Regions from separate parts of the Homo sapiens genome. Here regions 2, 3 and 4 are each linked to region 1. Evidence: fine-mapped expression QTL. A gene starts in region 1. Each other region holds a variant in brackets. All regions are shown on one strand. Distances are between the middles of the regions.

Region 1 (8,145 bases):
CAGGTGATCTGCCTGCCTCGGCCTCCCAAAGTGCTAGGATTACAGGCATGAGCCACTGTACCCAGCCTAATTTTCATTTTATAATTTTTTTTTTTTTTGAGACAGAGTCTTGCTCTGTTGCCCAGGCTGGAGTGCAGTGGCACAATCTCTGGTCACTGCAACCTCCGCCTCCAGGACTCAAGCGATTGTCCTGCCTCAGCCTCCGGAGTAGCTGGGATTATAAGCCTGTGCCACCACGTCTGGCTAATTTTTAGTAGAGATGGGGTTTCACCATGTTGGCCAGGCTGGTCTCGAACTCCTGACCTCAAGTGATCTGCCTGCCTTGGCTTCCCAAAGTGCTGGGATTACAGGTGTGAGCCAGTGTGCCTGGCCAAATAATTTTAATTTTTTAGAGACAGGGTCTCACTTGGTTGCTCAGGCTAGAGTGCAGTGGCACAATCACAGCTCACTGCAGCCTGGAGCTCCTGGGCTTAAGTGATCCCTCTGCCCAGCCACCTGCATAGCTGGGACTATAGGTGCATACAACCACCCCTGGGCAATTTTTTTGTAGAAATAGGGTCTCAATATATTGCCCAGGCTGATCTCAAACTCCTAGGCTCAACCAATCCTTCTGCCTTGGCCTCCCAAATTTCTGGGATTATAAGCATGAGCCACTGCACCTAGCCTGACTCCAAGACTTGATTTGAGCAATTGGAAGGATGGAGTTGTAATTTAAGGAGAGGGGGAAGACTGTGAAAAGGGCAGTGGAGGTGTAATGAATCAGGAAGTTAGTTTTGGACTTATGCTTGATATGCCTGTAGAAACATCCAAGGGGGGATTTTGAATAGCTAGATGAATATGCTATATGTCTGGATTGGGGAAATCAGGAGTAGAAATAGAAATTTGGGAGCTGTCAACATATAGATCGTATTTAAAACCATGGGAGTGAATGAGGTCACCAAAGGAATGAGTGTATACTTTGAGAAGAAAAGAAGTCTGCTGGGCGCAGTGGCTCATGCCTGTAATCCCAACAGTTTGGGAATCCAAGGTGGGAGGATTGCTTGAGCCCAGGTGTTCAAGACCAGCCTGGGCAACATAGTGAGAACCTGTCTCTACAAGAAATAAAAAAGTATTAGCCAGGCCTGGTGGTGTGTGCCTGTAGTCCCAGCTACTCAGGGCCTGAGGTGAGAGGATTGCTTAAGCCTGGGAGGTTGAGGCTGCAGTGAGCCATGATCGTGCCACTGCACTCCAGCCTGGGCAGCAGAGTAAAATCCTGTCTCAAAAAAAAAAAAAAGAAAAGAAGTCCAAAGACTAAGCTAGGGGCACTCACTCCAGAATATAGTGGTCAGGAGGGTAGGTGGGAACTAGCAAAGAACCCACTTCTGAGTTGCTAATGCGACAGATGGAGAATCAAGAGAAGAGTGGGCCTGGAAGCCAAGTGAATAGAGCATTCCAGAAAGAGGGAGAAATCAATCGTGTCCAATTCTACAGCTAGGCTGAGTAACTGAGAAAGGACTGAAAGAGGACCATAGGACTTACCATGTGGATTTCATTACTAACCTTGTCCAGAGTGAGTGCTCAATGAATCAGTGAATAAATGAGTGTAACTTTCTCCAACTATATTTGATTAGGACCCAGTAACTTGGGACTTTGTTTCTCCAGGAAGAGTTTGACAAATTATTTGAATGAAATACCTTTTCCCTCAATGTCTAAACTCCTCTTTGGAATTGTAGGTGGTGGAAGATTGCAGAAGGTTCCTAATCTCTGGAAGCCAGGCAGTCTAGTTGCCTGTGGTCATTTCTTTGTACTGTTCCACACAGCCATACAATACTCCAATCCCTTCAGGGCGAAGGAGTCATCAACACCTGAAAAACAAATACTATACTCCCAAAATTACAGAAAAACACCTGCAAACTGACTCAAGTGAGTTTAGTTCATTTAGTCAGGCTGGGGGAAGAAACCACATTTTTGAGATAATTAACTCATAGCATTGTTCAATAAAGTCTTTTATTGGAAATTGTGATGATTCAAGGCATATTCCCATAAAATACAGTGAAAATTTAAATCGAAAGCAGCTGGACCCTGATGTATTGTTCTCTGAAAGAGGAAGATTCCACCTTAAAGGCAGTCATTCTATAGCAGTTCCCATTTCTTAGGTGCTTACTATATACCAGAAACGGTACTAAGAAGTGCTTTATGGACATTTAGCAAAGTGAATCCTCACAACCACCCTACGAGAGAGGTACTAGTATCATTCCCAGATGATAGATGTAATATTAATAAGCTACAGATGAGGAAATGGATGCTTGAAAAGTTTGAAGGGACATCTTAGGAATCAGTTATCTCCCCTGGGGAGGGACCTTCAGGAATGGCCTGATCCCTATCAGGAGAGCTGTCCGCTGTTCAGGATGTCAAAGGTTCCTGTTCTGCTTCTAGAAGTCAGCTTTTCCTGGGAGGAAAAGTGGGCATGGGCTGAGGTGAGAGCTGGGGTGCAGGTGGAGTATGAAGACTCCTCAGAGAAAGGAAATAAACAAAAAATATTTATTGAGCTTCTACCATGTATCAAACCCAGTCACTAGTCACTATTTTATCCTCAGACAGACACCTATAAACCTTTAAACCACGTGTGTGTGTATATATATATATATTATAAGAAAGCTTAGAGAGGATAAGTAAACTTGGGATCACACAGATGTCAACAAGGGGAGAAGCCTGTCCGGGTGTGGTGGCTCATTCCTGTAATCCCAGCACTTTGGGAGGCTGAGTGGGGAGGATCACATGAAGCCAGGAGTTCCAGACCAGACTGGACAAGATAGGGAGACCCCACTTCTATTTTCTAATAGAAATTAAAATAAAAAATAAAGAAAATTTCTTTATACATTGAGCTGAAATTAAACCCCACTGTGGCTTCCACCAATTTTTGCTCTCTGGAGCAACTCAAAACACATCTAAATCCTCTTCTACAAGCGAATCCTTTAAATATTTGAAAATACCTATGTCTCTCTTCTGTGCTCTTCTGGTACCAATAGTTTAAATGGGTAACAGTAGACTTTGTTTTATTCAATCTTTTAAAAAGCAAATAAAAAGTAAGACATGCTGGGTGCGGTGGCTCACGCCTGTAATCGCAGCACTTTGGGAGGCGGAGGTGGGCTGATCACGAGGTCAGGAGTTCGAGACTAGCCAGACCAACATGGTGAAACCCCGCCTCTACTAAAAATACAAAAATTAGCCAGATGTGGTGCACGCCTGTAACTCCAGCTACTCGGGAGGCTGCGGCCAGAGAATTGCTTGAACCCAGGAGACAAAGTTTGCAGTGAGCCGAGATCACGCCACTGCACTCCAGCCTGGGAGACAGAGCGAGACTCCGTCTCAAAAACAAAAAGTAAGACATTACCAATATGATGCCAACCCTCATGCACTCATCCCCAACCCCACACTTCTCTTCTCCCACCCCTTCTATCTGCTTTTGTATTTATTTAGCCTATGGGATCCCAATGCAGAGGAGCCCTGGTGGACGCATTTATAGTGCAGCGATGAATAGAAGACAGTGATAGTCTTATACTGGAGTTGAAATGTGATAAACATTTATACACTGTGTTTATAAGTCGTGTAACTCTGGCCAATTTATCTGGTCTTTCTAAGCTCACTTTCCTCGTCTGTAAAATGGGAAGAATAATCATACTTATTGCGCTGGTTGTTATGGGGATTAAGCAAGATAATTCTCTAAAGCTTTGGCACTTGGCGCTGAAAGTAGCCATTCCATGTCTTCTTTCCCGCCCCGCCTCTTGTGCTCCCCACCGCTTTCGTGATGTCCGCAGTTGCCCACCTGCCTCTACAATAAAAAACGCATCCCTCCTCCTGCAGGGTCCACCGCACCGGGAAGCCCTGTCTGTATCAGTTACCAACCACAATTGCAGTGAGTACGAATCGTGGCTTTCCCACAGTCAGGAAAGGCAAGGGAGACCGACGACCCGCTTCTCTAGGAGTAAGTAAAGATTAAAGGTAGTTCGCGGTATAGCCTAGGCAGGGATTAACCCGTGGTCCCAGCGCTCCTGCTATTTGCATTCCAAAGCAGACACCTCATGCGCTCAACCCCGCCCGCAGGCGGCTCCCGCAGTCTAAGGGACCTGGCGCGAGTCCGGGAAGCGGAGGGCGCAGCTGCGCAGGGAAGGGGGCCGGGGGCGGGACCAGGGCGCGCGTTCCGGTCCCGGGGCGTGGCCTCCCGCAGGTGAGTACGCTGCTCCTTCGGTTTCCCTGAAACCTAACCCGCCCTGGGGAGGCGCGCAGCAGAGGCTCCGATTCGGGGCAGGTGAGAGGCTGACTTTCTCTCGGTGCGTCCAGTGGAGCTCTGAGTTTCGAATCGGCGGCGGCGGATTCCCCGCGCGCCCGGCGTCGGGGCTTCCAGGAGGATGCGGAGCCCCAGCGCGGCGTGGCTGCTGGGGGCCGCCATCCTGCTAGCAGCCTCTCTCTCCTGCAGTGGCACCATCCAAGGTGAGAAACCTGGCCAAGGAGGGCTCTTATCTCTGAGGAGCTGGGGTCCTGGGCACGCTGGGCAGACGGTGGGATCCGGGCAGGTGTGCGAAGGCTGTTCTGCTGCCGGCACCCATCTCTACGAATCCCTTAGCCTCCCCTTGGTGGCTTTGATGTGAGGTCTCTGCGCCAAGGAGGCACCCAGGTGGGACATGCGGGAGCAGCTGAAGTCAGCGGAGCCGGGCAGAGGCAGAGATTTCCCCAAAGACCCCACTTCCCGTAGAGGCTGTCATGCTGGGCACCTCCAGGCCCCAGCGTGGGTTCGGGGAAAGGGAGGGAAGGAAGGAGTAGCTGTGTCTAAAGGGTACGCAGAGGACCTAGTCCCCTCCCCGGGCTTGGTTGCTTTGTAAACACTAAGTCATTAAGAGCTTTTTGCCAACTCCGGAGACTTCCTCCGCTGGCCCCGCGGGGCCGGTGGGGTTAGCGAGCTGATTGCGCAGGGCAGGGCGGAGTGGGTGGGAACCCGCGGCCCGGGAGCCTTCTAGGTTGTTTTTTGCGTCCCTCTCCAACTGCTGGAAGCCTTTCTTCGGGTTCTGGCCCCTGCGTTCGAGACCCACCCGGGTCCCGCTGCTCCTGGCACCCACAGTGGAAGGCCCGGGGTATGAAAGTCAGGGCCGGTCCCTGATGGGTTCTGGTGGTAATGAGCGCTCAGGCCCGTTGGGCGCCACGAGGATTTACGAGCGGAACTTTTTGGACCCTGCCTTATATTTGACCAGTTGACCCTCTGGGCCTGGGGTTCCGGGACTTTCCTAGTGTGCCACCCGGAGCGGCCACTGGCTGCCACCCAGGTCTGCAGGCCAGAGGCTGGCTGGCCTGGGAACAGAGCAGCACTTGCGCCCGGCCGTCGCGTTCCTTGGATGTGCTGCTCCGGGTGTGCTCGAACTTGTATTGCTGGGAGTGTGTTCTTCCGGGCCCAGCAGGCCTCGCTGTGGCCGTGGGGGATGTTTGACCTGCGATCGCGCCACTGTGATCCTAACCGAGGCCCCTCTGTTTGGGGCAGCCTGGGTAGCAAAGGGAGCTTTTAATTTCCCTCAGAAATGCGCATTTCTCACTTTTATCCTCCTCTTCATAAAGACGAAGTAAAAGAGCAAGTCACAGTGGGTTGGAATTAGATGGAAGAATGTGATTCTTTTCCCTCTGCAGTTAGGGAAAAGGGTGTTAATGGTGTAAGCTTGAAAACTGTGCACCGCTGGTATATTTTTTTTTCTTAATCAGCATCAGAATAAAGGCATTTAGTTCCAGGAAGTATTGAAAACTGTAATGGACACCTCTCCTCTATGTCCTTTAAAGTTGGAAACTTAAAATTCAGGAGCAAAGGTTAGTATGTGCAAACTTTAAAAAAATACATGTTGGTATAGCTGATTCAACATCTTTATGATTCAGAGATCCCTGTAGGAAGCATGCCCCGATTATTTGTCTTGTTCTTGTTTACTACTCTTGGGGGATTGGGAGATCCCTGGATTATAAGGCGAACTTGATTTAACAATAAGGAAAAATCAGGTTACTTGTTAACTATAGCCACTTAATATTGCACCTTGTTCCTCATCCTCCCCCCACCATACTTTTATTCCCTTGCAAAGTAACTTTCCCAAAGGGTTAGTGAAGTAACACTGACAATTGATTTAGGCAGATGGAGCTTTCCTCCCACCTTAAAACTAAATTGATTTTAATAAGAAATACAGTGTTAGCAAAGCTTTTCTGCCCTCAGGGTGGGTCTTTGCTCACTCGCTTTTTAGCCGGTCCTTCTGCGTGCCCCTCAGGTGGCTGCAGGGCCGATTTGGGGTTTGATTTTCTTCCCAAAGCCTCACTCCAAAAGACTGCCTCATAGAAACGAACTCAGCCGAGATCACAACCTTCTCAGGGTACAGGTGAAGGACACTGAATTGAGGAGGCAAGGCAAGGAAAACACTTGGAAATCAGGGCTTCTCTTTCCCTTTACAATAGTAATTGATAATTATTTGGGTAAACATGCTTAATATGTGTCCTCACTGCATCGTTAACTCCTGGAGGCAGGGGGCCCTACCATCCTTTCCATCACGTCTAGCATAGTCTCATCACCTACGGGACCTCAGTAAATAGCAAATGAATGAAGTGAGGAGTCTTGCCCAGAGTACCCTGGCTGGTCCATGTGGTGTTCATTTCAGTCAGCTTCTCTCTGCCACTTACTTATTTTTTTCCACCATGTTACAGGCCTAGGTCATTCCATTTATCTTTTGGAGACTGGAACTTCTGTTTTCTTTATAATTGGTTTGGTGGTTTTTTTTTGTTTTTTTGGTTTTTTGGGTTTTTTTTTTTTTTGACTCTCATTCGGTTGCCCAGGCTTGAGTGCAGTGGTGCAATTTTGGCTCATTGCAACCTCCACCTCTCCCGGGCTCAAGGAAGTCTCCTGCTGCAGCCTCCCGAGTAGCTGGGACGACAGGCACGCACCACCACCCCCAGCTAATTTTTGTATTTTTAGTAGAGACAGGGTTTCACCATATTGGTCAGGCTGATCTCAAACTCCTGACCTCAGGTGATCCACCCACCTTCAGCCTCCCAAAGTGCTGGGATTACAGGCATGAGCTACTGCGCCCTACCTATAATTGTTTTTTAAATTATAAAAACAATATGTGATCACTCGAGGGAAAAATGAGCCAAAACAAAAAAAGGAAACATTTAATTAAATCACCCTGAACTTCAGTACCAAAGTAGCCACCGCTAATATTTCGGCTTATATATTTTCCCACTCTTTATTACATCCATGCACAAAATATGTATTCACAAATACAGAAAATATGTTTGTGCAAGTATGGGATTATATAAGCACATCAGTATCATGTCAATACATATAAAACATTTTTAATGACTCCAAAATGTTACAGAAGGATGCATCAATTTTAAAATTAGTCCTTTGTTGATAGACATGTGGTATTTCCATTTTTTTTTTCCCCCTGAGATAGAATCTCACTCTGTTGCCCAGGCTGTAGTGCAGTGGCACGATCTCGGCTCACTGCAACCTCTGCCTCCCAGGTTTAAGTGATTCTCATGCCTCAGCCTCTGGAGTAGCTGGGACTACAGGCGCACACCACCACATCCAACTAATTTTTGTGTTTTTGGTATAAACGGGGTTTCGCCACGTTGGCCAGGCTGATCTTGAACTCCTGACCTCAAGTGATCCACCTGCCTCAGCCTCCCAAAGTGCTGGGATTATAGGCATGAGCCACCGTGCCTGGCCAAAGTTTTGTAATATGACAGAACACTGCAATGAACTGGAAGATAGGACTTTAAATTTGATCCTTTTGCTTGCTTTGTAGTTACTAAATAACCTTGATAGATGATGTTTTAGTAAATCTGTATTTGACTTTCTTATGGTTTTATTAGCTTGGCAAGTGTTGAAGAAAACAGTTCATTCTGAAAGAACACTTCTGAAAATGTACTAAAAGTTTAGCTAGGGAGGGGCACCCCACAATTGAAACCTTTATTTTTCAGTCTGTGCTCCCAAAGATTGGGAGCAAAAAAGGACATTTGGGGTGAGGGGATCATAGAGAAGAGAGGGTGAAAGGAAGAGAACTAATGCAAGTAAAGTGCTTGTTTTACACTTGGTTTGATGGGGAGGTTGGGCCACAAGAGGAGTATACTTAAAATAAAAATTAAATT
Region 2 (8,145 bases), 22 kb before region 1:
TTTTTTTTTTTTTTTTTTTTGAGATGTTGTTTCACTCTTGTTGCCCAGGCTGGAGTGCAATGGTGTGATCCCGGCTCACTACAACCTCCGCCTCCCAGGTTCAAGCGATTCTCCTGCCTCAGCCTCCCGAGTAGCTGGGAATACAGGCATGTGCCACCACGCCCGGCTAATTTTGTATTTTTAGTAGAGACAGAGTTTCTCCATGTTGGCCAGGCTGCTCTCGAACTCCCAGCCTCAGGTAATCTGCTCTCCTTGGCCTCCCAAAGTGCTGGGATTACAGGCATGAGCCACCGCGCCTGGCTGGTTTCGGCTTCTTTACTGCAACCTGTTTTATCAGCAAGGTCTTTATGACCTGTATCTTGTGCCGACCTCATATCTCATCCTGTGACTTAGAATGCCTTAACCATCTGGGAATGCAGCCCAGTTTTCAGCCTCATTTTACCCAGCCCCTATTCAAGATGGAGTTGCTCTGGTTTAACTGCCTCTGACAATATTATCAGATCCTAAAACACAATCTTAGAAATAGCTGCTCTTTCAAAACACTAGACATATATTCAAAGCCATAGAAATGTGAATGCTGACTTCATTGTTAACTGTGCAGAGAGAGGGAAATGAGAGAAAATACATGTAAATTAGCATACTTGTGTTTTCAAAGTTGTTTTTATTTTTTATTTTTTTTGAGACGGAGTCTCACTCTGTCACCCAGGCTGGAGTGCAGTGGCACGATCTTGGCTCACTGCAACCTCCGCCTCCGGGATTCAAGCGATTCTCCTCTCTCAGCCTCCCAAGTAGCTGGGACTACAGGTGCTTGCCACCATGCCCAGCTAATTTTTTGTATTTTTAATAGAGATGGGTTTTCACCATGTTAGCCAGGATGGTCTTGATCTCCTGACCTTGTGATCTGCCTGCCTCGGCCTCCCAAAGTGCTGGGATTACAAGTGTGAGCCACCATTCAAAGTTGTTTTAACAATCTTATAAATTCCTTTTTTTTTTTTTTTTTTTGAGACAGAGTCTCACTCTGTTGGCCAGGCTGGAGTGCAGTGGTACAACCACGACTCACTGCAGCCTCAACTTCCTGGGTTCAAGTGATCCTCCCACCTCAGCCTGCCAAGTAGCTGGGATTAATTTTTTCTATTTTTTGTAGAGATGGGGGTCTCACTATGTTGATTGGGCTGGTCCCAAACTCCTGGGCTCAAGCAATCCTCCTACCTTGGCCTCCCAAAGTGCTGGGATTATAGGCATGAGCAATGGCACCCAGCCTTACATTCTTTTTGTAAGTTCAGGTGAGTTTGATCTTGTATCATAATAGTGAAGGCCCTCCTTTTTTATGTATCTTTCTTCTTTTTTATTTATCTTTATCCCTCCCTCCCTGTCTCCCTCCCTTCCTTGCTTCCTTCCTTTCCTCCCTCCCTCCCTTCCTTCCACGGAGTCTCTGTCGCCCAGGTTGGAGTGCAGTGATGCGATCTCAGCTCACTGAAACCTCCACTTCCCAGGTTCAAATGATTCTCCTGCCTCAGCCTCCCAAGTAGCTGGGATTACAGGTGCCCACCACCATGCCCGGCTAATTTTTGTATTTTTAGTAGAGACAGGGTTTCACTATGTTGGCCAGGCTGGTCTTGAACTCCCAACCGCAAGCAATCCGCAGGCTTCAGCCTCCCAAAGTGCTGGGATTACAGCCATGAGCCACAGCACCCGGCTTATCTTTTTTCTTTAAAATAATACAAACTCATTCAAATATACTTGGAAAATACGGAAAATAATAGGGAAGGAAATAAAAATCAACTATTTCATCATTCAGAGATGATGATGATTCGGATGATTTCATCACTCAGAGTGAAATAGTTTGTGCTGCCTAACCAAATTCAAAATCTTGGCAGTTTACAACAACAAACATTTATTTTCTCCTTCATGGGCCCATGGCTCCACTGGGTCTCTGAGTGCCCCGCTGGGCTTGGCTGGGCCTGGGTTCAGGCTATGAGTTGGGTTAGGTCTGCTGCACGTGTTTTCTCATTTTTCTCAGATCAGTAGCTTCTGGGAGATATTTTTTCTCATGGAAGACCACAGGAATGCAAAGGTGTGAGCAGAAAAACAGGAAGCCTTTTAAGGTCTTCACTTAAAACTAGCATGCTGTAAATTTTACTCACATTTCACGGGCCAACACCAGTCCTTTGGAGGCTGAGGCAGAAGGATTGCTTGAGCCCAGGAGTTTGAGACCAGCCTGAGTAACATAGCAAGACCCTGTCTCTAAAAAAAAAATTTTTTTTTTTTTTTTAGATGGAGTTTTGCTCTTGTTGCCCAGGCTGGAGTGCAATGGCGCGATCTCGGTTCACCACAACCTCTGCCTCCCAGGTTCAAGTGATTCTCCTGCCTCAGCCTCCCGAGTAGCTGGGATTACAGGCATGTTCCACCACGCCTGGCTAATTTTTGTATTTCTAGTAGAGACAGAGTTTCTCCATGTTGGTCAGGCTGGTCTCCACTTCCTGACCTCAGGCGATCTATCTCAACCTCCCAAAGTGCTGGGATTACAGGCGTAAGCCACGGCACCCGGCAAAAAAATTTTTTTAATTAGCCAGGTGTGGTGGTATACACCTGTAGTACCAGCTATTTGGGAGGCTGAGGTGGGAGGATCACTTGAGCCTAGGAGGTTGAGACTGCAGTGAGCTATGATCATGCCCATGCACTCCAGCCTGAGTGACAGAGCAAGACCCTGTCTGGTTTTTCTTTTTCTTTTTTTTTTTTTTTTCAGATGGAGTCTTGCTCTGTTGCCCAGGCTGCAGTGCAGTGGTGCGATCTCGGCTCACTGCAACCTCCGGGCCCCCCCGATTCAAGTGATTCTCCTGCCTCAGACTCCCGAGTAGCTAGGATTATAGGCGACTGCCACCATGCCTGGCTAATTTTTGTACTTTTTGTATTTTTATATTTTTAGTTTCACCATGTTGGCCAGGCTGGTCTTGAACTCCTGACCTCATGATCCGCCCACCTCAGCCTCCCAAAGTGCTGGGATTACAGGCGTGAGCCACCAAGCTAGGCCACTGCTCACCCAATTTTACCAACAAGAAGACTGAGGGTTAGATGATAGCTTCTTAAACTTTAAAGTATCTATGCATCACTGGTGGATCTTGTTAAAATTCAGATCCTGATTCAGGAGGTCTGGGGTGAGGCCTGGCCCACTTGGAAGTAAAAGGCTAGAAGGTCTAAGTCATTTGCCTCAAGGTCACCCCACTGGTAAAGTTCAGTGCCAGGTTTTCAACCTAGCTTCAGTCTGACTCTAAAACCTGTACTTTTATCATCTCTCAGAGACCCTGCTCCAAGATCTCTTGCAACTCTAAAATTCCAATTCTGGTGCCAGATTAATTGGAGAAATGCAAATAAAATAACAGCAAGCATGTTCTCGTGTCCCAGCTGCTCCCAGTGGAGTAGTGGATGGAGATGCTTGGTTACTTTCTCAGGTCAAAGGAGGCTTCTGGGCAAGGCAGGAGCAAGCTTCTGTACTTTTGTTTTGTTTTTTAAGATATGGGGTCTTGCTATTTTGCCCAGGCTGGTCTTGAGCTCCTCGGCTCAAGCAATCCTCCTGCCTTGGCCTCCCAAAGTGCTGGGACTATGGGTGTGAACCACCACACACAGCCTGTACTTTCATAACTATATGACACTCAAAAGAATTCCTTCTTTGGCCTAGAAAGCCAAACCGACCCACTAGTGGTACAACTCAAAGACCTGCCTCAGAGCTGCAGCAAACGTATAAAGAAGTCATTATAAAAATAGCAACCACAGGTCGGGCGTGGTGGCTCATACCTGTAATCCCAGCACTTTGGGAGGCCGAGGCAGGTGGATCATCTGAGGTCAGAAGTTCCAGACCAGCCTAGCCAACATGGTGAAACCCCGTCTCTACTAAAAATACAAAAATTAGCTGGCAGTGGTGGCGGGCGCCTATAGTCCCAGCTACTCGGGAGGCTGAGGCAGGAGAATCACTTGAACCCTGGAGGTGAAGGTTGGAGTGAGCCGAGATTGCACCATTGCACTCCAGCCTGGGCAACAAGAGTGAACAAAACTTCGTCTCAAAAAAAAAAAAAAAGCAACCGCATATTGTGCCCTTAACTGTGTGCTAGGCACTTATTAAATTTTCATGATAGCCCTATGAGGTAGGACTGTTATCATTATCTTTACCCTCAAATAAGGAAACAGAGGTTAAATAACTTACCCAATGTACAGCTAGAGAAAAGCAGAGGCAGCATTGACTACCAGAGCCAGGGTTTTACGTAGACATATGTTCTATGTAGCGCTGTTTTCAATTAATCATTCCAGCTGATTATGAAAAAGGATGGCAGCCTTGGGACAAAGGGTTTCTATACACTCCCACGCCCA[G/A]TAAAATCCCCCATCAGACATGATGACTTACATATATGGAATCATATATGAAATGGCTGGTCCTCTTCTCTAATCTTCTTCTGAGAAAAACATCTGCCAAATAGCAAAATAAGATACAGTCTCATGGCCAGGCACAGTGGCTCACGCCTGTAATCCCAGCACTTTGGGAGGCCGAGGCAGGCAGATCACCTGAGGTCAGCAGTTCGAGACCAGCCTGGCCAACATGGTAAAACCCTGTCTCTACTAAAAACACAAAAAAATTAGCCAGGCATGGTGGCAGGCTCCTGTAATCCCAGCTACTCATGAGACTGAGGCAAGAGAATCGCTTGAACCCGGGAGGTGGAGGTTGCAGTGAGCCGAGATCACACCATTGCACTCCAGAAAAGAGCGAGACTCTGTCTCAAAAAAGAATTTAAAAGTAAATAAATAAAAATAAAGATACAGTCTCAGAAATTATGGATTAACTAATATAGTTGGTTCAACTCAATTCCTCCCTGTTCATTCTTTTTTTTTTTTTTTTTGAGATGGAGTCTGGCTCTGTCCCCCAGGCTGGAGTGCAGCGGCGTGATCTCGGCTCACTGCAAGCTCCGCCTCCCAGGTTCACGCCATTCTCCTGCCTCAGCCTCCAGAGTAGCTGGGACTACAGGCGCCCGCCACCACGCCCGGCTAATTTTTTGTATTTTTAGTAGAGACGGGGTTTCACTGTGTTAGCCAGGATGTTCTTGATCTCCTGACCTCGTGATCCGCCCGCCTCGGCCTCCCAAAGTGCTGGGATTACAGGCGTGAGCCACCGCGCCCAGCCCAATTCCTCCCTGTTCATTCTAAGCCTACTATTTGCTCATGATCCATGCCTTCTAGTTAATTGAACTGTCATTTAAGAGACAATTTATGGCCAGGTGGAGCAGCTGAAGCTTGTAATCCCAGAGCTTTGGGAGGCTGAGGCGGGAGGATTTGGTGAGTCCAGGAGTTTGAGACCAGCAAGAGCAACATAGCAAGGCCCTGTCTCTACAAAAATTTTTTTAAAAAATCAGCCGGGTGTGGTGGCATGTGACTTGGTCCCAACTACTCAGGAGGTTGAGGCGGGAGGATCGCTTGAGCCCAGGAGTTCGAGGTTGCAGTGGGCTATAATCACACCACTACACTCCAGCCTGAGCAACAGAGTGAAACCCTGTCTCTTTAAAAAAACAACAAAAAAAGATCATTTATATATATGACCTAATAAGAAAATACACCACAATACTTCATAAAGTAGAATCTCATATCAAAGGATCAAAGGCCTAATCTGTGACGATAATAACAGCTAGCATTTGTTGATCATAATTTATGTCCTTCTTTTTTTGTTGTTGTTCTTTTTAAAAGTTTTTTTCATTAAAAAAAATTTTAACTTAAAGAGATAGGGTCTCCTTATGTTGGCCAGGTTGGTACTGTCTTCTCATGCTCCCCCACCTACCTGGCCTCAAGCGATCTTCCTACCTCATCCTCCCAAAGTCCTGGGATTACAGGCACTGTCATAATCTATGTCCTTTGGACACATTATCTCATTTAATCTTCCCAACAACCTTATGAAGGAAGTTATTAGGAAAACTGGGTTTGAACCAGGCAGTCTGACCCCAGCCCTTACATACCACTGTCCTAACCCCACACAGAGCTTTACTTCCTCTCTCTGAAACCAGTCCTCCGTGCTGTGCACCCTCTGATGGGGGGAAGGTGTGCATTGTTTGGAGTTATAAAGAGAGGCCTAGGCGGCTGGGCGCGGTGGCTCACGCCTGTAATCCCAGCACTTTGGGAGGCCGAGGCAGGCGGATCACAAGGTCAGGAGATCGAGAACATCCTGGCTAACACGGTGAAACCCCGTCTCCACTAAAAATACAAAAAATTAGCTGGGCATGGTGGAGGACTCCTGTAGTCCCAGCTACTCTGGAGGCTGAGGCAGGAGAATGGTGTGAACCCAGGAGGCGGAGCTTGCAGTGAGCTGGGATCGCGCCACTGCACTGCACTCCAGCCTGGGCGACAGAGCCAGACTCCGTCTCAAAAAAAAAAAAAAAAAAAAGAGAGAGGCCTAATGAAGAAATGGTAGCTGATGGACCTTGGACCAATAAATCAGGCACCAACTTATCTTTATCAACTGCTGGGTACAGTACCAGAACATTATAAATAGACAATAAATGCTTAGTGAGCCCAAATATCTTGTTTAATTAAGAGTTAACTATTGAAGGTGGTCTTGTGTGTGTAGAAATGAGGGGCAGGGCATGCTGGTTGGAGGGCATGTTGCAGCACATCTTTGCCAAGAATGAGCTCAGCCTGTCCTGGAGAGTCAGCTTGTCAACAATAGAGAATTCATTCAGTTGTTCAGCAAACAGGTTTTGAGCATCTACAATGTGCCAGGTACTGTGTTACGGGTTAAGGATATAAAGATGAATAAGACACAACCCCTGACTTCAAATGCTTCATGGTCTTAAGAGGTTTGGTGAGGAGGGGCAGACAGGCACAGATGGAAACAAAGACATGTGCCATGCAGGCTTATAAATGACTTTTAAAGGGTCTAGAGAAAGAGCTGAGGATGAAGAGAGAAAAAGCTGATGGGGGAAGGGAGAGAGAAGTTGGCCATTGACAATCAGGACCCTAGAAGCAGTGAGACACAGAGGACAAGGAGGTCAGTGTGAGAGTGTTGGTGTAGGTGGGGGAGCATGAGAAGACCATGGGCAGAAGAGACCAGCTAGGGCATTGCAGACCCAGGTAAAGCGCCGCTGGACTCCTTGTACATGCACACTCAGTCCCCAAATAGATGCCTTTAGACATGATCCTCTGGTAAGATTAAAAAGGCAGCTGTTTTCCGTGTTTCAGGCAACAACTTCTAGGAAACACTTATGCATTTGCCTTTCTTTCTTTTTTTTTTTTTTTTGAGACGGAATTTCACTCTTGTTGCCCAAGCTGGAGTGCAATGGTGCGATCTCGGCTCACTGCAACCTCCACTTCCTGGGTTCAAGCGATTCTCCTGCCTCAGCCTCCCGAGTAGCTGGGATTAGAGGCACACACCACCACCCCCGGCTAATTTTTTGGATTTTTAGTAGAAACGGGGTTTCACCCTGTTAGCCAGGCTGGTCTCAAACTCCTGACCTCAGGTGATCTGCCCGCCTTGGCCTCCCAAAGTTCTGGGATTACGGGCGTGAGCCATCACACCCAGCTGCCTTTGCCTTTCTTTTTAACTCCTAGTGACCTAGTTATTGAAAGGAGCAGGAAAAATGGTCACACCCCTAACATTCCTGCATAAAGTATTTTTAATATCAGAAGTAATCCAGTAAATCTTCATGGAGTGTCTACCATGGACCAGGCAGGGGCCAAGGAGCTGAGGATACAGCTGTGAACAGAACCCCTGACTTCATGGAGTTTACATTCAAGTGGGGCCACAGGCAGCCAAAAAACCCCAATAGATACACAGCATGTGAGGGAGTGACATACAACATAAGTAAAGGAAAGAAAGCAGGGTAAGGAGAGAGAATGAGGCTGGGGAGGGGATATTCTGTATGGGTGGTACCTGTAATCCCAGCATTTTGGGAGGCCAAGGTAAAAGGATCACTTGAGTCCAGGAGTTCAAAACCAGCTTGGGCAACATAGTAAGACCCTGTCTGTACAAAAATTTAAAAATAAAAAAAAAATAAATAAATGAAAAGACCACTCTGATGGAGTGACAGTGGAGCCAAGACCTGAAGGGGTGAGAAGTTAGCAGATGGCTTGTAGAAGAAGAAATTAAAGTGCTTGATGTATTTTAGAAGTTACAAGTAG
Region 3 (8,145 bases), 24 kb after region 1:
TTTGAAAGTGAACGAAGATTTGCAGTCCTGATGCTCAGGACAAAGGCCAGTGCTAAACTGACTCGGCTGGAGTTGTTTTATGGGCTTTTTCCTAACGTGTCACCTCAGTGGTTTGCAGCAGGAGTTTCAAACCTGTAATTAATTTCCTGGTTATCAAGGTTTCATAAACTTTAGGGCTATAATCTCATCAGTATGCATAGTTTAGTGATTACAACTTTGTTCCTGAAACATTAACCCTTTGGAGGCCCCTGAGAGGACTATAATTTATTGCAGAATCAAAGGTAGTACTTGCTGTCCTCCGGATCTTGATTAAAATGATAAGTTTTTGCTTGGGTGTTTAGATGTCTTCTCAAAAAGAAGTTTCTGATGTGGCCAGTCCTTTCCTGACCCCCAGTTCTGAAGACAAAAACCAAGCCCTTAGTGATCAGGGATCTAGCCCTACATTTTATTCAAGCCTTGGAACTTCACTGAGATGATTGTCCCACTTAAATGTCAACAATTAGAGTGACTCAGACCAACCTTGGAATGCCTCTCTGGAGGGACAGTTTGAAATATTCCGTGATTTGAGTATGAACTGCTCTTGCCTCTACCAGTGGGTCAATCTATGGACTGTTTCCCAGCCTTTGTCTTTATTGGTGAGAAATTAAGCCTGACCAGAGTTACAGACAACCTCCGGTAAAAACCACAGCCCAAGCCTGCGGGCCCATCAAGAACCCAGCAGCAGTGTGAGTGGTTCAATCCTTCATCCTGTGAAAGGAAAATAAATCCTGTGGCCCCAAAATCACTAAGCTAATGGGAAAAGTCAAGCTGGGAACCGCTTAGGGCAAACCTGCCTCTCCTATTCAAAGTTACCCCTCTGCTCACTGAGACAAATGCATATCTGGGCCGGGTGCGGTGGCTCATACCTGTAATCCCAGCATTTTGGCAGGCCGAGGTGGGCGGATCACGAGGTCAAGAGATCGAGACCATCCTGGTCAGGAGTTCGAGACCAGCCTGGCCAACAAGGTGAAACTCCGTCTCTACTAAAAATACAAAAAAAATTAGCCGGGCATGCTGCTGGGTGCCTGTAGTCCCAGCTACTTGGGAGGCTGAGGCAGGAACATCGCTTGAACCCAGGAGGCGGAAGTTGCAGTGAGCTGAGATTGCGCCACTGTACTCCAGCCTGGGTGACAGAGCAAGACTCCATCTCAAAAAAAAAAAAAAAAAAAAAAAAGCATATCTGATTGCCTCCTTTCTAGAGGCTAATCAGAAACTCGAAAGAATGCAACTGTTTGTCTCTCATCTACCTATGACCTGGAAGCCCCCTCCCCGCTTCAAGTTGTCCTGCCTTTCCAGACCGAACCAATGTTCATCTTACATACGTTGATTGATGTCTCATGTGTCTCTAAAATGTGTAAAACCAAACTGCTCTGAGCACTGTGAACCCTAAACATTTGAGACAGTTCTCAGTTAATTTAGAAAGTTTATTTTGCCAAGGTTGACGCATGCCTGTGACACTGCCTCAGGAAATTCTGACGACATGTGCCCAAGGTGATCAGGGCACAGCTTGGTTTTACACATTTTAGGGAGACATGAAACATCAATATATGTAAAATGTACATTGGTTTGGTCTGGAAAGGCGGGATAACTTGAAGCAAAGACCAGAAAAGCAGGGAAGGGACTTCCAGGTCACAGATAGGTGAGAGACAAACTCTCTTGCATTCTTTTGAGTTTCTTCCTTTCCAAAGAAGGCAATCAGATATGCATTTATCTCAGTGAGTGGAGGTTGACTTTGAATAGAACGGGAGGCAGGTTCGCCCTGTGCAGTTTCCAGTTTGACTTTTAACTTTTAGCGCAGTGATTTTGGGGGCCCAAGATATTTTCCTTTCACACCACCTTGGGCACATGTCGTCAGGACCTCCAGAGGCTGTGTCACGGGCATGTGTCCTCAACCTTAGCAAAATAAACTTTCTAAATTAACTGAGACCTGTCTCAAATATTCAGGGTTCACAATTCCACAAACATTCATTGCAACATTACTGCATTATTAAATGCAAATAATTAAATTAGGATTTCCACCTTAACAGCTATCCAGTTGAGGGGTTGATGTTCTCTCAGTGGAATACATCAATATTTAAAAAAAAAACACAAACCCCAGAAACCTAACCCTCCAGTATATGGGCTTCTCAAAAGCCTTTAAAGCATAGCTTATTCCAGAGCTAGATCCTGAGACAGGCAGAAAGTCAAAGTAAATGTGAAGGACAAGAAGTTTCCAGAAGGGCCACTACTATGGCTTACCCCCCTAACCACTGCTTTGTTTACACCATTGCTTGAGCCCAGCAGTTCAAGGCTGCAGTGAGCCACGAAGCCATGATCACACTAGTGAGTAGCTACTACACCCCACCCTGAGGAACATAGTGAGACCTCATCTCTAAAAAATGAAAAATAAATAAAAAGAAGAAGAACTGAATAGAATAGAATAGATGGCAAATAGGCATATTGAAACATAAAAGATGCTTAGCCTTAGTCATTAGAAAAATGCAAATTAAAAAACCCATACCTATTGAGTAGCTAAAATAAATAAGTAAATCTGAGAGTATAAGTATATAATGAGAAATGAACACCCTCCCTACCCACCACATGGGAACCCGTTTATACGCCCTCTGTATATTCTTTGAGATGTTTTTATGCATGTATAAACATGTATACATGCTTTTTAAAAATAAAAGGAGTTACACCATGTATTAGTTAAATTACACATAAATTACCTCAAAATTTAGTGTCTTAAGACAGTCATAAACATTTACTAACTTTCACAGTTTCTGTGGGTTATGAATTCAGGAGCAGTTTAGCCCAATGGTTCTGGCTTAGGATCTCATGAGGTACCAGGTAAGATACTGGCTGGAGCTGCTGCTAGCTGAAGATGTGACGGGGGCTGGAGGATCCTCCACAGGGCTGGCATGTTGGTGGCAGAAAGCTTCAGTTCCCCTCCACGTGGGCCTCTTCACAGGGCTGTTGGACTGACCTCATAACATGAAGATTGGTGTTCCCCAAAATGAGTGATCCATGAGAACAAGGGGAAAGCCACAATGCCTTTCATTACTTAGCTTCAGAGGTCACACACCATCACCTCCACCATGCTAGCTCCAATTGCTTGGTCAGACAAGCTAGCTCCAATTCAATCTGGGAGAAGACTACCTAGCATAAACACCAGGAGGCGAGGATCACTGGGGATTACATGGGAGGCTGGTTTCTGCATTATATACGTGAACACATCTTGGATATGATTGCCATGTTAGCATTTACAGATTGACCTCATTATTTTAAATGGCTATCTCCATGTGCACATATACCATAATTTATGGAATCCAGCTTATGCTATACTTATATTGCTATATAAATAATATTTGAGTGGAAATCT[GTACATACTTGT/G]TAATTCAATATTCTTCCACCACGCACTATGTGCCAAGTCATCTTCTAGGCAGTAAGGAATATTGTGGAGAACAAAATAGACAAGAACTCTATTCTCATGGAGTTTACTTTCTGATTGGAGAAAGACTGAAAACAAAACAAAATATCCAATAGTAGTAAATGCTAAGAGTATTTTATATTGGGAGATCAGGGAAGGTTTCTAAGGAGGTGAAATTTAAGTGGCAATGTAAAGGGCAGGAGAGCCAGCCATGGGAGGATCCCAAGCAAGGGCTTTATGGGAATGAGTAAGGGAAGGAAGAGTATGAGCAAGTAGGCTGGAGAGAGGCAAGAGCTTGATAACTGAAGGGAACTGTAAGGGAGTAAGGAGCTTGATTTTCTTTCTACATGGGATGCCATAGGTTTGTTTTACTGCCCATTTAAAAAATCACTGGTGGCCGGGCGCGGTGGCTCACGCCTTTAATCCCAGCACTTTGGGAGGCCAAGGCAGGCGGATCACGAGGTCAGGAGTTCAAGACCTGCCTGATCAACATGGTGAAAGCCCGTCTCTACTAAAAATACAAAAATTAGCTGGGCGTGGTGGTGTGCACCTGTAATCCCAGCTACTCAAGAGGCTGAGGCAGGAGAATCGCTTGAACCCGGGAGGCGGAGGTTGCAGTAAGCTGAGATCATGCCACTGCACTCCAGCCTGGGTGACAGAGCGAGACTCCCTCTCAAAAAAAGAAAAAAATCACTGGCTATTATGTGGAATAGGGATTATAGAAGGACAAGATGAGAAAGCAAGAACAATTTGGAGTAATCCAAGCAAGAGGTGATGTTGGCTTGAATTAGGGTGGTGCTAACAGAGAGGGAGAGAAGAAGCCTAAAGTCAACAGATGTGAAAAGAAGAGGAATCAAAGCTTGTGCCTAGAGTTTCTGCTTGATGGATAATGGTGAAATAATTAGGAGTGAGCATGTTTGGAGGTTGAAAGTTAAGAGTTCTGTTTTGACCATGGCATCTTGAGATTGAGATGCCTGTTAGACATCCAAGCAGCATTGTTGAGTAGGAGGTTGGGTGCGGTGGCTTACACCTGTAATCCTAGCACTTTGGGAGGCTGAGGTGGGAGGATCATGTGAGCTCAAGAGTTTGAGATCAGCCTGGGCTACGTGGCAAAACCCTATCTCTACAAAAGATAAAAATAATTAGCCCAGTGTGGTGGCATGCGCTTGTGGTCCCAGTGTTACTCAGGAGGCTGAGGTGGGAGGATTGCTTGAACCCAGGAGGCAGAGGTTTCAGTGAGCTGAGATCGTGCCACTGCACTCCAGCCTGGGCAACAGCGCGAGAAAAAAAAAAAAAAAGAACTTGGTGAGGTTACCTATGTTACTAGAAAGGGGTCCAGATCCAGATCCCAAGAGAGTTTTCTTGGATCTCACTCAAGAAAGAACTCAGGGCGAGTCGATAAAGTGAAAGCAAGTTGATTAGGAAAGTGAAGGAATAAAAGAATGGCTACTCTGCAGACAGCAGCCCCCATAGCTGGTGGTTGCCCATTTTTATGGTTATTTCTTGATGATATGTTAAACAAGGGGTGGATTGTTCATGCCTCCCCATTTTAGACCATATAGGGTAACTTCCTGATGTTGCCATGGCATTTGTAAACTGTCATGGTGCTCGTGGGTGTGTAGCGGTGAGGATAACCAGAGGTCACTCTCGTGGCCATCCGGTTTTGGTGGGTTTTAGCCGGCTTCTTCACTGCAAACTGTTTTATCAGTAAGGTCTTTATGACCTGTATCTTTTTTTTTTTTTTTTGAGATGGAGTTTCGTTCTTTTTGCCCAGGCTGGAGTGCAGTGGCATGATTTCGGCTCACTGCAACCTCCACCTCCTGGTTCAAGCCATTCTCCTGCCTCAGCCTCCTGAGTAGCTGGAATTACAGGCATGCATCACCACACCCGGCAATTTTTTTGTATTTTTAGTAGAGACGGGGTTTTGCCATGTTGGTCAGGCTGGTCTCGAACTCCTGACCTCAGGTGATCCACCCGCCTCGGCCTCCCAGAGTGCTGGGATTACAGGTGTGAGCCACCACACCAGGCCATGACCTGTATCTTGTGCTGACCTCCTACCTCATCTTGTGACTTAGAGTGCCTGTCTGGGAATGCAGCCCAGTAGTGTTCAGCCTTATTTTACCCAGCTCCTATTCAAGGGTTGCTCTGGTTCAAATGTCTCTGACACCTAGTGGAGAGAATATAGATGAAGAAAAGAGGGCCCTGGACAGAGGCCTTCAGCATGTAGACTCTTTTGAGCAGAGGAAGGGCCAGTAAGAGACACTGAGAAGGACCAGCCACTATGGCAAGAAGAAAGTCCAGCAAATATGCTGTCAGGAAAGCCAAGGGCATAAAGGACAGAGTAATCAATCATGGTGAAAATTACTAAGAAGCCAAGTGAGATATGAACAGAGGAGTGACTACCTGAGCTTGCCCTTGGAGAATGTTGGTGACCTTGGCAAGACCACCCTCTCAGTGATGTGATGGGGAAAGGAAGCCAGAATAGTGTGTTCAAGAAAGAATTAGAAGGAAGGAAGTCCACACAATGACAGTGACAATCCCTTACAGCAATTTTAATTGTGAAAGGGAGCAGGGGAATGCGGAGGCAAGAAAGGCAATGAGAGTCATTCAGCAGAGAGGGAGACAGTGTGTCTTTGCATGTATTGTATTTCTATAAGTGAAGGTGGAAGGATCTCTTGAGCCCAGGAGTTCAAGGCCAGCCTGGGCAATGTGGCAAGACCCTATCGCACAATAACAACAACAAAAGTAGCCAGGGGAGGTGCTGTAAACATATTGTCTCAGCTACTTGGGAGGCTGAGGCAGGACGATCGCTTGAGCCCAGGAGTTAAAGGCTGTAGTGAGCTGTGATTGCACCACTGCACTCCAGCCTGGGCAACAGAGAGAGACTCTGTCCAAAAATAAAAATAAAAAAATAAGAAGTGGAACTTCTGGGTCAAAGGATACATGTAATTTTGATTGTGGTAAGTTGCCCTCCTAAGGTGTTGCACCAGTTACACACTTGCCAAAAATGTGTGTCTGTTTATCTAGAGTGTTGTAAACACCACATTTTCATGGTCTTTTATTTGCCAGTCTGAACTTCACAAATTTTGAGTGTAATGATAATGCAGGACCATAAGCATCTAGGAAGAAATAGAGCTTTGCTTTCTTCCTTTATTTACTGTTGGGAACAGGTCCCCCAAAATCTGGCCATAAACTGGCTCCAAAACTGGCCATAAACAAAATCTCTGCAGCACTGTGACATGTTCATGCTGGCCATAACGCCCACGATGGAAGGTTGTGAGTTTACTGGAATGAGTGCAAGGAACACCTGGCCCTCCCAGGGCGGAAAACTGCTTAAAGGCGTTCTTAAACCACAAACAATAGCCTGAGCGATCAGTGCCTTAAGGACATGCTCCTGCTGCAGATAACTAGCCAGACCCACCCCTTTATTTCAGCCCATCCCTTCGTGTCCCATAAGGGATACTTTTAGTTAATCCCATTTCCCATAAGGGATACTTTTAGTTAATCGAATATCTATAGAAACAATGTTAATGACTGGCTTGCTGTTAATAAATACGTGGGTAAATCTCTGTTCGGGGCTCTCAGCTCTGAAGGCTGTGAGACCCCTGATTTCCCACTTCACACCTCTATATTTCTGTGTGTGTGTCTTTAATTCCTCTAGTGCCACTGGGTTAGGGTCTCCTTGACTGAGCTGGTCTCGGCAATTTACTTTGTATTTTAGGCATATTTTCCCCCTGCTATTCCTCACCACCAAGGCAGTGACCCTCAAAAGGTACGGCCTTGCGGGAAGTTGGTCCCATTTCTCTTTGTATTAGCTCTGAGAGGAAACCTAAGCTATTCTTCTAGGTGGGCTGCAGAAAACTTCTGTGCCGTGTGGAACATCCTTTGCTCTGATGAGTTTTCTATCATTCTTTTTTGGAGAACATGAGGGCATGGCAGCAGCCACTACAGCAGGAGCCTGGAGTCCCAGCTCTGGGCCCTAGCCAGCTCACCTGCATATGAGGGATTAACTCTCAACACTGCTGGATCTGGCTCAGGTCTGAGTTCCTCACCTCAGCTCCACCATGTAGCCTGGGGTGAATGGCAAACCCATGGAAAGCGTTTAATTATAGCTTCTATGTACCATCGGGTAGACTCAATTACCTAATCCCGAGAAAGCAGTTTTAGCCAAGCCTTATGTTGTGAACTCTTTCAGAGGCCACCTGGGCTCTTGCAGGGGAACTGTGTCTAGTTCTTACCAGTGGAAGTCAGACTTTTTTCTTTAACCAGAGATTTGTGTAAATGGGAGACTTTGTTAAAAATATAACAGATTTATCAGAATTTATGGCTTAAAAAATTGCAGCACAGGGAGGGAAATGATGGTGTTTATTCTAGTGACCATTTCTGTCCATTAAAACTGAAATTCTTTTTTTTTAATCTTTTTAAAAACTGTGTTTTTTTTTTTGAGACAGAATCTCGCTCTGTTGCCCAGGCTGGAGTGCAGTGGTATGATCTTGGTTCACTGCAGCCTCTGCCTCCTGAGTTCAAGTAATTCTCCTGCCTCAGCTTCCCTAGTAGCTGGGATTACAGGTTTCCGCTACCACACCTGGCTAATTTTTGTATTTTTAGTAGAGACGGGGTTTCACCATGTTGGCCAGGCTGGTCTTGAACTCCTGACCTCAAGTGATCCACCTACCTCGCTCTCCCAAAGTGCTGGC
Region 4 (8,145 bases), 35 kb before region 1:
CGATTTCGGCTCACTGCAAGCTCTGCCTCCCGGGTTCCCCCATCTTGGTTGGTTGACCGCATAACAATGAATCCATCACAGAGCCCTTAAACGGGCCAGTTTGGATAACCAGCAGGTGTTTTGAAAAGCTACTGATTTAGGCCAAATTAGAAGGAGGGGCAATGGGTTGCCTTGGAGAAGCAAACAGGGGCGGCAGACTGAACTGTAAATCACTCTCGGCTCTGGGCTCTCTTTCTTTTTTCCTCTTTCCCATATGGGCTTCCAACCCTGGGAGCCATTTTTAGGGTGAACAAAGGTATCTGTGGAATGTTCATTTGTTTCTATTATTTGCCACAAGCAGTCTTTGTTGTTTTTTTTTTTAACTTGAATACTTAACACTCCCTCTTAAAACCAGGACTCAGTATAAAAACTATGCTTCACACTGTTTGCAAGAGCCAAACATTGGACACTCAAATGTCCATTAAAAATAGGATGGGGGCTGGGCTCAGTGGCTTATGCCTGTAATCCTAACACTTTTGGAGGCTGAGGCAGGTGGATCGCTTGAGCTCAGGAGTTGGAGACCAGCTTGGGCAACACAGCAAAACTCTGACTCTACAAAAAATGCATAAGTTAGCTGGGCATGGTAGTGTGCACCTGTAGTCCCAGCTACTCAGGAGGCTGAGGCAGGAGAATCACTTGAGCCAGGGAGGTTGAGGCTACACTGAGCCATGATCACATCACGACACTCCAACCAGGGTGATGAAGTAAGATCCTCTCTCAAAAACAACAAACAAAAATATGGGACCAGGTGTGGTTGCTCATTGTAATCCCAGCACTTTGGGAGGCCGAGGCAGGAGGACTACTTGAGCCCAGGAGTTAAAGACCAGCCTGGGCAACACAGGGAGATCCCGTATCTACAAAAAATAATAAATTAGCTGGGCATGGCTGGGTGCAGTGGGTCACGCCTGTAATCCCAGCACTTTGGGAGGCCAAGGAAGGCAGATCACAAGGTCAGGAGATCGAGACCATCCTGGCCAACATGGTGAAACCCCGTCTCTACTAAAAATACAAAAATTAGCTGGGCATGGTGGTGTGTGCCTGTAATCCCAGCTACTTGGCAGGTTGAAGCAGGAGAATCCCTTGAACCAGGGCGTCGGATGTTGCAGTGAGCTGAGATGGCACCATTGTACTCTAGCCTGGTGACAGAGCGAGACTCCATCTAAAAAAAAAAAAAAAAAAATTAGCTGGGCATGGTAGCAGGTGACTATAGTGACTATAGTCCCAGCTACTCTGGAGAATGAGGTGGGGGAATTGCTTGAACCCAGGAGGTTGAGGCTGCATTGAGCTGAGATTGTGCCACTACACTCCAGCCTGGGCAACAGAGTGAAACTCTGTTTCAAAAAAAAAAAAAAAAAAAGATATGGATAGGGCTGGTCATGACGGCCTACACTCGTAATCCCAGTGCTTTGGGAGGCCACCACGGAAGGATCACCTGAGGCCAGGAGTTTGAAGTTCCAGTGATCTATGATTGTTAGAGGCCTTTGAACTAGAGCAACTCCATCTTCAGTAGGGGCTGGGTAAAATAAGGCTGAGTCCTACTGGGCTGCATTCCCAGTTAGGCATTCTAAGTCACAGGATGAGATAGGAGACCAGCACAAGATACAGGTCATAAAGACTTTGCTGATAAAACAGGTTGCAGTAAGGAAGCCGGCCAAAACCCACCAAAACCAAGATGGTGATGATCGTCCTTACTGCTACACTCCCATTAGCACCATGACAGTTTACAAATGCCATGGCAACGTCAGGAAGTTACCCTATAGGGTCTAAAAAAGGGGAGGCATGAATAATCCACCCCTTGTTTAGCATATCATCAAGAAATAACCATAAAAATGGGCAACCAGCAGCCCTTGGGGCCGCTCTGTCTGTGGAGTAGCCATTCTTTGGTTACTCTACTTTGCTAATAAACTTGCTTTCACTTTTCTCTAGGGACCTGCTCTGAATTCTTTCTTGTGCAAAATCCAAGAACCCGCTCTTGGGGTATGGATCAGGACCCCCCCTTCTTGTAACATCTTTTTGGCAACCACAGAAGGGACTATAGTGCGGTAAACCCCTGACCCAAAGGCTAACTTTGGGTAAGTGGTAGGGTCCGGTGACATCTTTCTGGCAAACCCTGAAGGGATGATACTGAAGAAATCCCCTCACTCAAAGGAAAGAGATTGGTTGACTTTGGATAAATTGGTGGGGTACCTGGGTGAAAAATGGGATTGGGTGAGAGGCCCAACTTAGAGGAGTTAGAGTCTCTCCTAAGACAAAGAGGGTTAAAGGCTCCTCTCAATAAGAGGCAAGGACACTTGACCAACATTGGGTTCAAGGCCCAACTTAGGAGGGTTAGAGGCCCCTCTCAGTAAAGTCCCTTTCGGCTAAATATGGGTTTGGCACTACAGGATGTTAACTGCTACTCTCTATGGAATAATCTGCTTTGCACTCTTTGCTGATGACTGTGGGTGTCAGGATTGGCATGTACAGGATTGTGGGACATGGGGAGCTTTTTCTTTCCTAAAAGGGGAAACTTGAGAGCTGACAGGACTGCTGGAAAAGATTCCTTCTTGACAGGCAAGCAGCCATCTGAACTTTTGAGTAATGGGCGGGTCTTACTCTGGTCTCCCTGAGCTCTTCACTTTTCCCACCCTGCCTCAGGCAATGCGCTCTTTCTCTCTCTCTCTCTCTCTCTCTCTCCCCCCGCAAACGGGTTAAATGAATGCTAAAAATCACTGTTTATCCCAGGCGTAGTGGCTCACACCTGTAATCCAGCACTTTGGGAGGCCGAGGCGGGCAGATCGCCTGAGTTCAGGAGTTCGACACCAGCCTGGGCAACACGGTGAAACCCTGTCTCTACTAAAAATACAAAAAATTAGCCGGGCATGGTGGCAAGTGCCTGTAGTCCCAGCTACTCGGGAGGATGAGGCAGGAGAATCGCTTGAACCCGGGAGGCAGAGGTTGCAGTGAACCAAGATCATGCCATTGCACTCCAGCCTGGGCAGCAGAGCGAGACTCCAGCTCAAAAAACAAACAACAATAAAAAACAAAAACAAAAATCACTGTTTATCTCCTCTGTAAAGTTTTGATTAATGGAAAAAAGGATTACTGAGGCTAATCTTAAACTGTAGTGAATCTGGTGTGCTTTGTGTATCTTTCTGTATTGTTCTGTCAAGATGAGGAGTACCTTAGGATAGAATGTGGACCTAGGACCCCTATATGCCTGCTGTTCAAGACAGCCCAGCAAACTGGTTAGTCATTTCCTTGGGAGACTGACCTTGTAACCATGTAGCTGTGCTTTCTCTTTTCACAATGGTGGCCTGGGTTCAGGGTCCTGGTAAAAAAAAATGATGGTATTTCCACATAATGAAAGGTTATACAGCAATGAGAATGAATAAGCTACAACTATAAACCACAACCGGAATGAATCTCACAATGTGAGGACCAAAAGAAGCCAGACAAAAAAAGAGTACGTAGTTTACGATTCTACTTGTGTAATGTAAAGGTCAAAACTTTAACAATAGACAAAATTGGGCCGGGCGTGGTGGCTCATGCCTGTAATCCCAACGCTTTGGGAGGCTGAGGCAGGTGGATCACGTGAGGGTGGGAGTTCGAGATTAGCCTGGCCAACGTGGTGAAACCCTGTCTCACCATGTTAGCCAGGCATGGTGGCAGA[T/C]GCCTGTAATCCAGCTACTCAGAAGGCTGAGGCAGGAGAATGGCTTGAACCTGGGAGGTGGAGGGTGCAGTGAGCTGAGGTCACGCTGCTGCACTCCAGCCTGGGTGACAGAGCGAGACCCCATCTCTCAAAAATAAAGATAAAAAATAAAAATAGACAAAACTAATCCAGTTTTAAAGTTCTTGAGTGAGACAGGGTCCCACTCTATCACCCAGGCTGGAGTGCAATGGTGTGATCTTAGCTCACTGCAGCCTTGCATTCCTGGGCTCAAGTGATCCTCCTGCCTCAGCCTCCCAAGTAGCTGGGACTACAGTCACACACAACCACACCCTACTAATTTATTTAATTTTTTGTGGAGATGAGATCTCACTGTGTTGCCCAGGCTGGTCTCAAACTCCTGGGCTCAGGGAGTCCTTCTACCTCAACCTCCCCAAATGCTGGGATTACAGGTGTGAGCTGCTGTGCCAGCTAAAAACTAATCTATTATTCTAGAAGTTAGAACAGTTGTTACTGTTGACGAAAAGAGTCAAACTCTGTAAAATATTTAAAGAGGTTTACTCTGAGCCGAATATGAGTGACCATGGCCCAAGAGACACTCTCAAGAGGTCCTGAGAAATGTGTCCGAGGTGGTTCAGTTACAGCTTAGTTTTGTATGTTTTAGGGAAACATAAGACATCAATCAATACATGTGAGGCATACATTGGTTCAATCTAGAAAGGCAGCACAACTCAAGTCGGGAACTGTGCTTCTAGGTGACAGGTAGGTTCAAAGATTTTCTGATTGGCAATTGGTTGAAAGAGTTATTACCTAGAGACCTGGAATCAATAGAAAGGAGGGTTTGGGTTAAGATAAGGACTTGTGGAGACTTCAAGGTTCTTATTATGTAGATAAAGTCTCCTAGGTGGCCACCCTTAGAGGCAAGAGATGGCAAATGTTTTCTATTTAGAACTTTAAAAGGTGCTGGTCTCTCAGCCAGTCTCTTCAGGATCGGAAAAAGACTTGGAAAGGGAAGGGGATTCTCTATAGAAAGTAAATTTCTCCCACGAGATACAGTTTTGCAGAGCCATTTAAAAATACGTCAAAGTCGATCCTTTTGTAGTTCAAGAGCATAATGATCGGGCGTTCACATGCGTGTGTCAGATGTGCCACCCTCGAACCTTGTTAGGATGTTGGCACATTACCTGTCTGACATAAAAGGAAAATAATAAATAAAAATATGTCAAAGGAATATATTCTGGGGCAAAAGATTTTTATTCCTTTCAGGATCTGCTATCTGTCGTGTGATGCTATACTAGAATCAGGTTGGAATTTGGTATTTTATTGCTACAAAGAATCTGCTTTGTCAGTCATAAGATCTCTGTTTTAATGTTAATGCTGGTCAGCTGTGCCTGAATTCCAAAGGGAGGAGAGTATAATGAGGCATATGAGACCCTCATACCCGGGTTTGAAATCCCCTTGGTGGAGAGGAAGGGGTCTGTTTAGTCATTTGGGGGAGGAGCTTATAATTTCATTTTTGGCTCACATTACCCTGGTGGGAATTCGTGACTGGAAGACAGCACGAGGGAGTCTTCCAGGATTCTGGTAGCATTCTGATTCTTGATTTGAATTCTGGTTCTATGGATATGAATTTTATAAAAATTCATGAAACTGCAAACTTATCATATGTACACTTTTTTTTTTTCTTGAGACAGAGTCTCACTCTATCATCCAGGCTGCAGTGCAGTGGCATAGTCTTGGCTCACCGCAAACTCTGCTTTGCGGATTCAAGCGATTCTGGTGCCTCAGACTCTTGAGTAGCTGGGACTACAGGCGTGCACCACCATGCCTGGCAAATTTTTGTAGTTTTAGTAGAGACGGGGTTTTGCCATGTTGGCCAGGCTGGTCTTGAACTCCTGACCTCAAGTGATCCACATGCTTCAGCCTTTCAAAGTTCTGGGATTAAAGGCATGAGACACTGCACCTGGCTGACATGTACACTTTTTGTAGGTATGTGATACTTCAATAATTTTACATATATTTTAAAAATTAAATAAATGTATGTATTTTAAAACCTAGCCTCATGTGCATACACACAAAAAAATAATTACATCATATAGAACTTCATAAAGAATGTCCAAAATTTAGAAACACACATACACACACGTGTGCAAACACACACATGCACAGTTAGGAGAAAGAGAGATCCTGGTAGTGTGATAGAAAAAAGAGGTTCAGCCAGGTGTGGTGGCTCAAGCCTGTAATCCCCGCACTTTGGGAGGCCGAGGCGGGCGGATCACGAGGTCAGGACAACGAGACCGTTCTGGCTAACACGGTGAAACCCCATCTCTACTAAAAATACAAAAAACTAGCCGGGCGTGGTGGCAGGTGCCTGTAGTCCCAGCTACTTGGGAGGCTGAGGCAGAAGAATGGCGTGAACCCGGGAAGCGGAGCTTGCAGTGAGCAGAGATCACGCCACTGCACTTCAACCTGGGCGACAGAGCAAGACTCCGTCTCAAAAAAAAAAAAAAAAGAAGAAGGTTCACATTTGTGGAGTGTGATTAAAAAAAAAACAATCCTCAACCCCTAGAAGATGGGAAGAAAGCAGGTTTGAGGAGGAAGAAGAATTAGAAAGCAGTATAGTATGACTCACCCAAGAACAATGACAACCAGCACTGCCCTTTGTCACTTGGACTTTGAACAAACAGTTGGTAAAATTATTTTGAGGTGTGGGTGAGTAAGGGGGTGTGCCCTGGGGCATTACTTGCTCAAATTGGTTTCTGCCCTGTATGAGATCAACACATAGATCACACATTAACTACTCCCATCCCACTTGAAAATGGCCCGTATACCATCAGGAGAAAGACCTCGACCATTTCCCATGATTATTCTTGTTATTCTAACATCCTTCAGATTGAGTGTTAAGTCCATATATTATGAAATTAATGAATCTTTCCAGAATCTCAAGCAGCAGTTCTATTATAATGTAAATCAGAAATCTTTGAGACGCTCCTTTTTTTTTGAGACAGAGTCTCGCTCTGTCGCCAGGCTGCAGTGCAGTGGCACAGTCTCAGCTCACTGCAACCTCTGCCTCCTGGGTTCAAGCGATTCTCCTGCCTCAGCCTTCCGAGTAGCTGGGATTACAGGTGCCCACCACCAAGCCTGGCTAGTTTTTGTATTTTTAGTAAAGACACGGTTTTGTCATGTTGACTAGGTTGGTCTCGAACTCCTGACCTCAGGTGATCCACCTGCCTCAGCCTCCCAAAGTGCTGGGATTACAGGCATGAGCCATCGCACCTGGCCTGAGAAACTTGTTAAAAACACAGATTTCTTGGGGCAAAGATTCAGCAGGTGACCGGTGGATCCGAAGAATCTTCATTTTAACCAGCTTCCCTTGCCTTTCCATCTGCCATAAAAGTCTGGATTTTAGCCGGGTGTGGTGGCTCACGCCTATAATCCCAGCACTTTGGGAGGCCGAAGCAGGCGGATCACCTGAGGTCAGGAGTTCGAGACCAGCCTGGCCAACGTGGTGAAACTCCGTCTCTACTAAAAATACAAAAATTAGCCGGGCATGGTGGCGGGTGCCTGTAATCCCAGCTACTCGGGAGGCTGAGGCAGGAGAATCGCTTGAACCTAGGAGGCGGAGGTTGCAGTGAGCCAAGATCGCGCCATTGCACTCCAGCCTGGGCAACAAGAGCGAAACTTCATCTCAAAAAAAAAAAAAAAAAAAAAAAAAAAAGGCCGGGTGCAGTGGCTCACGCCTGTAATCCCAGCACTTTGGGAGGCCGAGGCGGTTGGATCACGAGGTCAGGAGATCGAGACAATCCTGGCTAACACGATGAAACCCCGTCTCTACTAAAAATACAAAAAATTAGCCGGGCGTGGTGGTTGGTGCCTGTAGTCCCAGCTACTTGGGAGGCTGAGGCAGGAGAATGGCATGAACCCAGGAGGCAGAGCTTGCAGTGAGCCAAGATCGCACCACTGCACTCTAGCCTGGGCAACAGAGTGAGACTCCGTCTCAAAAGAAAAAAAAAAAGTCTGGATTTTATCTGTGCATTTTATGTGTCAACTTGACTGGACCACGGGATGCTCAGATATTTGGTTAAACATTATTCTGAGTGTAACGCTGAGGGTGTTTCTGGATGAAATGAACATTTCTATAGGTTGACTGAGTTAAGCAAATTGCCCTCCCCCATGTCTGTGGGCCTCATTCAATCGTTGAAGGCCTGAATACAACAAAAAGGCTGAATATAACAACATTTGTTCTCTCTGGCTGACTGTTTTTGCGCTGGGAACATTAGGCTTCTGCCTTTGGGCTTGGACTTGGACTGGAATTTACATCATTTGTTCCCCTGGGTCTCCAGCTTGGCAACTGCAGATCTTGGGATTTCTCAACCTCCATAACTACATGAGCCAATTCATTTGTATATGTGTATATATTGGCTCAGGACAGCACACCTGACAACTCTGGTTCCCAG

Which allele goes with the higher level. Alleles are on the strand shown, and positions count from the first base shown. SD is a standard deviation of normalised expression in the study named.
As copies of G replace A in region 2, the expression in sun-exposed skin of the gene that starts at base 4,236 in region 1 goes down (small effect, 0.20 SD a copy in GTEx).
With allele GTACATACTTGT in place of G in region 3, the expression in CD4 T cells of the gene that starts at base 4,236 in region 1 is higher (small effect, 0.38 SD a copy in CEDAR).
In carriers of allele T in region 4, the expression in esophagus mucosa of the gene that starts at base 4,236 in region 1 tends to be lower than with C alone (moderate effect, 0.57 SD a copy in GTEx).

Evidence for each region. PIP is the estimated chance that this variant, and not a neighbour inherited with it, causes the effect. A credible set is the group of variants that fine-mapping cannot tell apart.
Region 2: its variant is the best candidate, but not a certain one, in a credible set for the expression of F2RL1 in sun-exposed skin (GTEx, PIP 0.55).
Region 3: its variant is the best candidate, but not a certain one, in a credible set for the expression of F2RL1 in CD4 T cells (CEDAR, PIP 0.55).
Region 4: its variant is the best candidate, but not a certain one, in a credible set for the expression of F2RL1 in esophagus mucosa (GTEx, PIP 0.90).

What each region holds. Positions count from the first base shown.
Region 1 is chr5:76,814,795-76,822,939 of GRCh38, forward strand. It overlaps F2RL1 (F2R like trypsin receptor 1), which reads left to right and starts at 4,236. Exons shown (of 2, transcript NM_005242.6): 1 at 4,236-4,470. The coding sequence starts at 4,389. RefSeq lists enhancers at 1-419, 3,952-4,569, 4,570-5,187 and a silencer at 3,970-4,264.
Region 2 is chr5:76,793,127-76,801,271 of GRCh38, forward strand. No RefSeq gene overlaps it. Among named protein-coding and RNA genes, the nearest start is that of F2RL1, 22 kb to the right of the region's middle. RefSeq lists an enhancer at 5,727-6,227. The variant G/A (reference allele first, on the strand shown) is at 4,363.
Region 3 is chr5:76,838,562-76,846,706 of GRCh38, forward strand. No RefSeq gene overlaps it. Among named protein-coding and RNA genes, the nearest start is that of S100Z, 7.4 kb to the right of the region's middle. The variant GTACATACTTGT/G (reference allele first, on the strand shown) is at 3,401.
Region 4 is chr5:76,779,318-76,787,462 of GRCh38, forward strand. LOC124901199 (small nucleolar RNA U13) reads left to right here and starts at 4,779; the gene lies at 4,779-4,882. RefSeq lists an enhancer at 1-444. The variant T/C (reference allele first, on the strand shown) is at 3,692.